Homo sapiens: one gene and its partner. The protein of the gene in region 2 interacts with the protein of the main gene of each other region in a biochemical or structural test. Each region holds a gene or a part of one and is shown on either strand. Other genes may lie near its edges. The genes, in order: RNF34 and MKS1.

Region 1 (3,500 bases), on a different chromosome or scaffold from region 2:
CAACAAAGCGAGACTCCATCTCAAAAAAAAAAAAAAAAAAAAGCTGGGCATGGTGGCAGGCTTCTGTAATCCCAGCTACTCGGGAGGCTGAGGCAGGAGAATCGCTTGAACCCAGGAGGCGGAGGGTGCAGTGAACCAAGATTGTGCCACCGCACTCCAGCTTGGGCAAAAGAGCAAAACTCCGTCTCAAAAAAAAAAAAAAGGACAGGTAAAATTATAACAGTCCATACCTTTAAATGATTATATACCTCAAACTCTACAGCCATGGTGTGCTTAAAAGCATGAAAATCTGGCCAGGCTCAGTGGCTTATGCCTGTAATCCCAGCACTTTGGGAGGCCAAGGAAGGTGGATCTCCTGAGGTCAGGAGTTCAAGAACAGCCTGGACAACATGGCGAAACGCCGTCTCTACTAAAAATACAAAAAATTAGCTGGGCGTATTGGCAGATGCCTGTAATCCCAGCTACTTGGAAGGCCGAGGCAGGAGAATCGCTTGAACCGGGGAGGCGGAGGTTGCAGTGAGCCTAGATCGCACCATTGCACTCCAGCTTGGGTGACAGAGTGAGACTCTGCCTCGAAAAGAGGAAGGAAAAAAAAAATAGCCTGGGCACAATGGCTCATGCCTGTAATCCCAGCACTTTGGGAGGCAGAGGTGGGGGAGCAGATCATGAGGTCAAGAGTTCGAGACCAGCCTGGCCAACATGGTGAAACCCCGTCTCTACTAAAAATACAAAAATAGCTGGCCCAGGCACCTGTAATCCCAGCTACTTGGGAGGCTAAGGCAGGAGAATTACTTGAACCCAGGAGGCAGAGGTTGCAGTGAGCCGAGATCACGCCACTGCACTCCAGCCTGGGTGACACAGCGAGACTCCATCTCAAAAAAAAAAAAAAAAAAGCATGAACATCTAGATTCACTAAGAGTTAATTTAAAGTTAGTGTTCAGCCAGGCACAATGGCTCACATCTGTAATCTCATCACTTTGGGAGGCCAAGGCGGGTGGATCACATGAAGTCAGGAGTTCGAGACTGGACTGACCAACATGGCAAAACCCCATCTCTACTAAAAACACAAAAATTAGGCCAGGCGTGGTGGCTCACCCCTGTAATCCTAGCAGTTTGGGAGGACAAGGCAGGCAGATCATGAGGTCAGGAGATCAAGACCATCCTGGCTGACACGGTGAAACCCCATCTCTACTAAAAAAACAAAAACAAAATTAGCCTGGCGTGGTGGCGGGCACCTGTAGTCCCAGCTACTCGGGAGGCTAAGGTGGGAGAATGGCGTGAACCCGGGAGGCAGAGCTTGCAGTGAGCCGAGATTGCGCCACTGTACTCCAGCCTGGGCAACAGAGCGGGACTCCATCTCAAAAAAAAAAAAAAAAAAAAAAAAAAAGATTAGTTGGGCATGGTGGCACGTGCCTGTAGTCCCAGCTAGTCGGGAGGCTGAGGCAGGAGAATCGCTTGAACCCAGGAGGCGGAGTTTGCAGTGAGCCAAGATTGCGCCACTGCACTCCAGCCTGGGTGACAGAGCGAGACTCCATCTCAAAAAAAATTAATAATAATAAAGTTAATGTTCTTTTAAGTAAAGGATTCATCCACAGTTCTTTAGAGTATGCACTCTTAAAACTGGAAAAACTTTGTTCTAAAAAATTTAGTTTGCACGTTACATTTTTTGGGGAAAAAAATACCTCAACTGCAGAAAGTACTCCCAGGATAAACTTCTCTTCATTCCAGGGTTAACAGAAGTGCAGTTTTACAAGTTTAGCTTCCTACTAATGTAGCTACTAAACCAACAGCTCTCTTAGCTTTTATCCCCCTTCTAATTCATGTCTGATGTTGCCTCCTGGACTACAGTGAAAGTTCCTCATGGACAAAAACTTCTTTTTCTCCTGCTCCTCTTTCCACCATGGTATGACTGACAAGTAACTGTGTAAAAAATTCCTATTATCTCTTCACAGACAATGTAACATTATAAAATTTTACATGCTATTTAGAAAGTTCAAAATATGTTTTCTTGGTAAAGAAAACCAAAAATCTCAAATGACACCCCTTTTTAAAAGCAGCACTGTCAGAGATTATGACCTTTGTATCAGGGATAGTTTTACAATGAATTAGGGAAGAATACAATTTTTCAAACCATGTTAATGAGTATGAGCATTAAAATTCTAGGCTGAAAATTTTTTTTTCAACTACACAGCTCTGGTAAAGGGAATAGAAGGACTTATTTTGGGAAAACAGATGGATTCTCTGTGTAGATACCAATTTTGGAGGGGGACAATTTTGTCCCATTCCTCACGTTTCTATACAAGGAAGGGAATTTCCTCTTTGTTCCCCAGAAAGAAAATGAAGAAAAACACTTAATTTAGCCCTCATTATAAAATAAAAAATTAAAAACAGGCCAGGAATGGTGGCTCACACCTGTAATCCCAGCACTTTAGGTGGCCAAGGTGGGAGGATTGTTTGAGGCCAGGTCAAGACCAGCCTGGGCAACATAGGGAGACTCTATCTCTACAAAAAATAAAATTAGCCAGGTGTGGTGGCATGTGCCTGTGCTCCCAGCTACTCGGAGGCTGAGGCAAAAGGATCTCTTGAGCCTGGGAGGTTGAGACTATGGTGAGCTATGCTTACGCCACCGCACTCCAGCCTGGGTGACGGAGTGAGACCCTGTCTCAAAAACAAACAACAAAAAAGCCCAAGCCAACCTCCAAAGTGTCCCAGGCAAAAATGTTGCTATAACCCAATATTCAGTACAACTCAGACACATATTAACTACTGTCAGCCAAATACTACAGGAATAGAAGGTAAAGAAGCAATCCTGAAAAATTTAGGTTGCAGCCTCATTAGAATCTCTGAACTTAAATTTGGGCAAAATCTTCCAATGAGAACATGATCTCCCAGTGAGAGAATAACCTTAGCATCATATTGAAGGGCAAATCCACTTATAGTTATCATCTCTGAGAGGAGCATTTGCAACACTCCAGCCTTCTGGAAAGTTCAGAAATTTGAAGCAGGGGAAGCCCCTGTCACTAGTATATTTGAAGTATTTTTTTTTTTCCCATCCAGCATTTTTTTTTTTTTGGTGGTTTTGAGACAGAATCTTGCTCTGTTGCCCAGGATGGAATGCAGTGGCGCAATCTCGGCTCACTGCAACCTCTGCCTCCCGGGTTCAAGCAATTCTCCTGCTTCAGCCTCCCAAGTAGCCGGGATTACAGGCACCCACCACCACACCCGGCTAATTTTTGTATTTTTAGTAGAGACGGGGTTTCACCATGTTGTCCAGGCTGGTCTCGAACTCCTGACCTCGTAATCCGCCTGCCTCAGCCTCCCAAAGAGCTGGGATTACAGGCATGAGCCACCACGCCAGCCCCATGCAGCATATTTGAAAATTTTAATTTCCATCTCCCCTTTAAGCCCCATATTTCCTGGCATCCCAGTGCTGAAATGAACATAATTCCTTTTCTTTTTTTTTGAGACGGAGTTTCGCTCTTGTTGCCCAGGTTGGAGTG
Region 2 (4,020 bases):
TGGTAACCTCAGTTTGAAGTAGATCTGTACCAAAATGAAACAGCCTGTCAGAGTCCTTTGGATTATCAGTACCGTCAGGAGATCCTGAAGCTGGAGAATTCGGGTGGCAAGAAAAACCGACGAATCTTTACCTACACTGACTCTGATAGATACACCAATTTGGAGGAGGTATTGTTCTTTCTAGGGTCTCATAGCTTCCATCTTTGCTTCCTCTAGCTTTTTTGCCTCACTGAGTTCTGTGTGTTATGTCAGAGCCTAGTAAGGGGAGACAAGTAGCCTGTCTAGGAACTGCTGTGAGCTGCTGCTGCTGGCAGCCAGCCTGGAATAGAATGGGCACAGTCTACAGGTGGTGAGGCTGCTGCTCCCTTCTCTGCCTGCTAGAGGGCCTGGGGGAGCTGCCAGTATCTCTGATTATATGCTTGCAGAGTGCATACTGGGAGAAGTAACCACTGGGCTTGACTTCCTCCATGCATCATGAAAAAAGACAGGTAGTGGAGTCTGGAACAATATAGATAAAATTCATCAGGGGATTCAGCCCAAACTCTGAGTATATGGGTTTGAAGAGGAATTCAGTATAGCTATGGAAAATGGCTTATGTCCTCAATTTGCCTATGACAAAAATACCCTTGTGACCTTGTTTTACATTTTCTTCAGTCACTGCATTTCAGTTGCTTCTGTCTTCTCAGTAAGATTTTAAGCTCCTCGAGGGTAGAGCCTATTTTTTTTATTTTTGTCTATGACTCTGTAGGTCTCTGCAAGGAACAGGTATTCAATAAATGTTTTTGAAAGATTGACGTGCTTTCATTATTAGAGCTGTGGATTGATAACATTAGCTGGGCATGGTGGCATGTACCTGTAGTCCCGGCTACGTGGGAAGCTGAGGCGGGAGGATCACTTGAGCCAAGGAGTTCAAGGTTGCAGTGAGCTATGATAGCACCACTGCACTGCAGCCTGGGTGAGACCCTGTCTCTTAAAAAAATATATAAATTAAATAAAATTTGGGTTGTCTGTTTTGGAAAAGCAAATGAAAATGCAGTTAGTGCTCAGTTACCATGTGAGGATTTCCCACAAAATGCTTGTATCCCATTTGGCATTTTCTAACCACCTTGTTAACTTCAACATCTACCAAGCACACTAACCCAACTTTTTGTTGGTTTGTGCTCAGAGAATGCAGACTGATTTTAATATTAACATAAATAACTCCTTTTTAAAATCCAAAGGCAAACCATGATGTGGTAGAAATCTTCTTTGGGTTGTTTGGCTACTGCTCCCTCCGTTAGCATGTATAATTGTGAGGTGGCGGAACCTGTGGGGTTCAGGTCCTGGATGAGGTTTCAGGAGGAAGACTTCCCTTCAGGTACTTGGCTCCATGTGGCCCTGACCAGATGGCGTACACAGGGCTGCTTGCTTTTCCCAGCACTGTCAGAGAATGACCACTGCAGCCAGCGAGGTGCCTTCATTCTTGGTCGAGCGAATGGCAAATGTCAGGCGTCGCCGGCAGGACAGGCGAGGGATGTGAGTGCGGGCATGGGATGGGGGACAAGCTTTTACTTTTTATTTCCTAAAGTTGGGTAGTTTTGCATTTTTATCAGTGGTTATATATAGTATTCAAGTATTACTTTGTAATTAATTTAAAAAATAAATATAAAAATATAAAATATCTTCCTCACTCTTCATGTGGACATTTTTCCAAAGTGCCTCAGAGAGAGGGAAGGGATGTCATTTCTGTTTGTCAAATATTTTGGCTCTTAAAAAACAAAACAAAACAGTATGTCCACTAGCTCAAACTTCCCATTCTGAAGTGGCTCTCCACTGGGGTGCTCCATTGGGGTGTGCCAGGGAAGTGACCTTTCTGTGGTGTCTCCCAGGGAGGGCGGCATCCTCAAGTCACGCATCGTCACCTGGGAGCCCTCAGAAGAGTTTGTCAGGAACAACCACGTCATTAACACCCCTCTTCAGACAATGCACATCATGGCAGACCTGGGGCCCTATAAAAAGTGAGTGGCGCTTCTCACTGCCAGCTTAGAGCCTCATCCTTTTCTCCTCTCACCAGCTCTCCCCTTCCTGTTATTATCATCCTAGGTTATAGGGGAGGGAGGGACTTTTTCTTCCTTCTCTTCTTAGTTATGAGTGAAGCTTCTCACTGCCAACTCAGATCCTCATCTTCTTCTCCTCTCACCAGCTATCCCCTTCCTGTTATCATCCTGGGTTATAGGAGAGGAAGGGACTTTTTCTTCCTTTTTTTTCTTAGTTGTACTTGGAAGAAAGTTTTACCATGACAGCTCTCCCTATAGCCTCTGTTCTCTCCCCTGCAGTGGGCTCAGTATCTCTTCTTGTTTCCCTGAAGGACCATTGACCTCAACCTTGGTGTTTTCCTGATTTCTAGGCTTGGCTATAAGAAGTATGAACATGTCCTGTGTACTCTGAAGGTGGATAGCAATGGTGTGATCACAGTAAAGCCTGACTTCACGGGCCTCAAAGGACCCTACAGGTGAGGAGAGGAAGAAAGGGGTAGTGGAGACTGGCATTCCTTCCCTTGGTTGCACTTTTTGTCCCTAGTCAACTAGACTGTCAGAAAGTCCTTCATCTGTTCTAACTTTTACATTCCCAGGCAATGGTTCGTATTCTGTTCCAAGTCATAGGGCCTTAGAAAACCAGGGACTCCTTTCTCAGAAAATGTGCAACTGCACCAATTTGAAAGGGATCACTTCAGTGGTACAGTTAAATGACAGTGATTCTCTGTGCTGCTGAATGTAGGACCTGACCAGAACAGAGTGGGGTGAACTCAGCCAGGCTTTTCCTGTGGGCTGACTGTTCCTCATCTCTGTATCTTGGAAATGACAGAAATGTAAATTAGAAATTATCTGGCCCAACCTGTCCATTTTTCAGGTGAGAGAACTGGGTGGCAGGAATGTTGTGCCTTACAGTTTGACTGTAACTTCAAGCCAGAAATGGGCCCAGAACCTATACTTTCTGAGTCTAGTCTGGTGCCCTCTCTGCTTTACCCTTTTGTTTCTCTCTCCTGGTCGTCAATACAGCCACTTTTATCATCATATACTTTAGTGAGGTGTATGGCCCCTGATCGCTCATCCCTGGGCTGGGAGCTATCCCAGGGCCCATCTCTCATTATTAGAGTTGCTCCTTTCTGTGGTTTTGACCTTACAGGATTGAGACGGAGGGGGAGAAGCAGGAGCTGTGGAAATATACGATCGACAATGTTTCCCCCCACGCACAGCCGGAGGAGGAGGAGCGGGAACGGCGAGTGTTCAAGGATGTAAGCGCAAGTTCATTCCAAGTATCCAAGGGATGAGCCTCAGTGCCTGGAGCTGAGACCATTTCTGAACTTGATGTCAGCAGTTGCTCGGGAAAAGCCTTGCCCTTCATGGCCCCTTCTGACTTAGGCAGCATTGCTGACATATCAGACAGAAGTTTTTGATCATATTATAATAATAACAATAACCATTTATTTGAGCATTTACCATGTTCTGTGCTAGGTACTTTACATACCTTATTTCCTTTAGTCTTTACAACAACCCTTTGAGGTGAACACTTATTACCACCTTATAAGTGGGGAAACCGAGATTGAGGAGCTAAGTAGTCTGCCCAAGGTGGCATAGCTTGTAAGGGCGAGAGTCAGGATTCTGCCCCAGACCAGCTGACTCCAGGGCCTCTGCTTCACGGTAAAATGGCGGTGAGTCAGGTGCTTACGCCTCCAGCTCTTGCTGACCCTTCCCACTATTGCTTTTCTTCTTCCCATTCAGAACTGAACTTTGGTCTAGCTTGGGTTGCATCTTGAGTTTTGGTTTGGTTTGTTTCCTCAGCTTTATGGCCGGCACAAGGAGTATCTCAGCAGCCTCGTAGGCACCGACTTTGAGATGGTGAGTAGCTTGGCTTCCTGCAGCACTGTGAGCTGTGTTTAGCCGGAGCATTCTGACTGTGGATGAGTTACACTACCTCTCTTAAAGGCCCAAAGGTATACTCTACAGTGTGAAAAGGAAGTCAAAGAATAGCACATATAGT

The links.
Region 1: of the proteins of MKS1 (region 2) and RNF34, one has a biochemical effect on the other in vitro, tested with the Homo sapiens proteins (one study listed by BioGRID).

What each region holds. Positions count from the first base shown.
Region 1 is NC_000012.12:121,410,118-121,413,617, reverse strand, and holds part of RNF34 (E3 ubiquitin-protein ligase RNF34), read right to left. Parts: intron 1-3,500. UniProt on the Homo sapiens protein: E3 ubiquitin-protein ligase that regulates several biological processes through the ubiquitin-mediated proteasomal degradation of various target proteins.
Region 2 is NC_000017.11:58,212,236-58,216,255, reverse strand, and holds part of MKS1 (tectonic-like complex member MKS1), read left to right. Parts: intron 1-12; coding exon 13-168; intron 169-1,357; exon of another isoform or gene 1,358-1,417; coding exon 1,418-1,515; intron 1,516-1,868; coding exon 1,869-1,997; intron 1,998-2,386; coding exon 2,387-2,491; intron 2,492-3,165; coding exon 3,166-3,274; intron 3,275-3,821; coding exon 3,822-3,878; intron 3,879-4,020. UniProt on the Homo sapiens protein: Component of the tectonic-like complex, a complex localized at the transition zone of primary cilia and acting as a barrier that prevents diffusion of transmembrane proteins between the cilia and plasma membranes.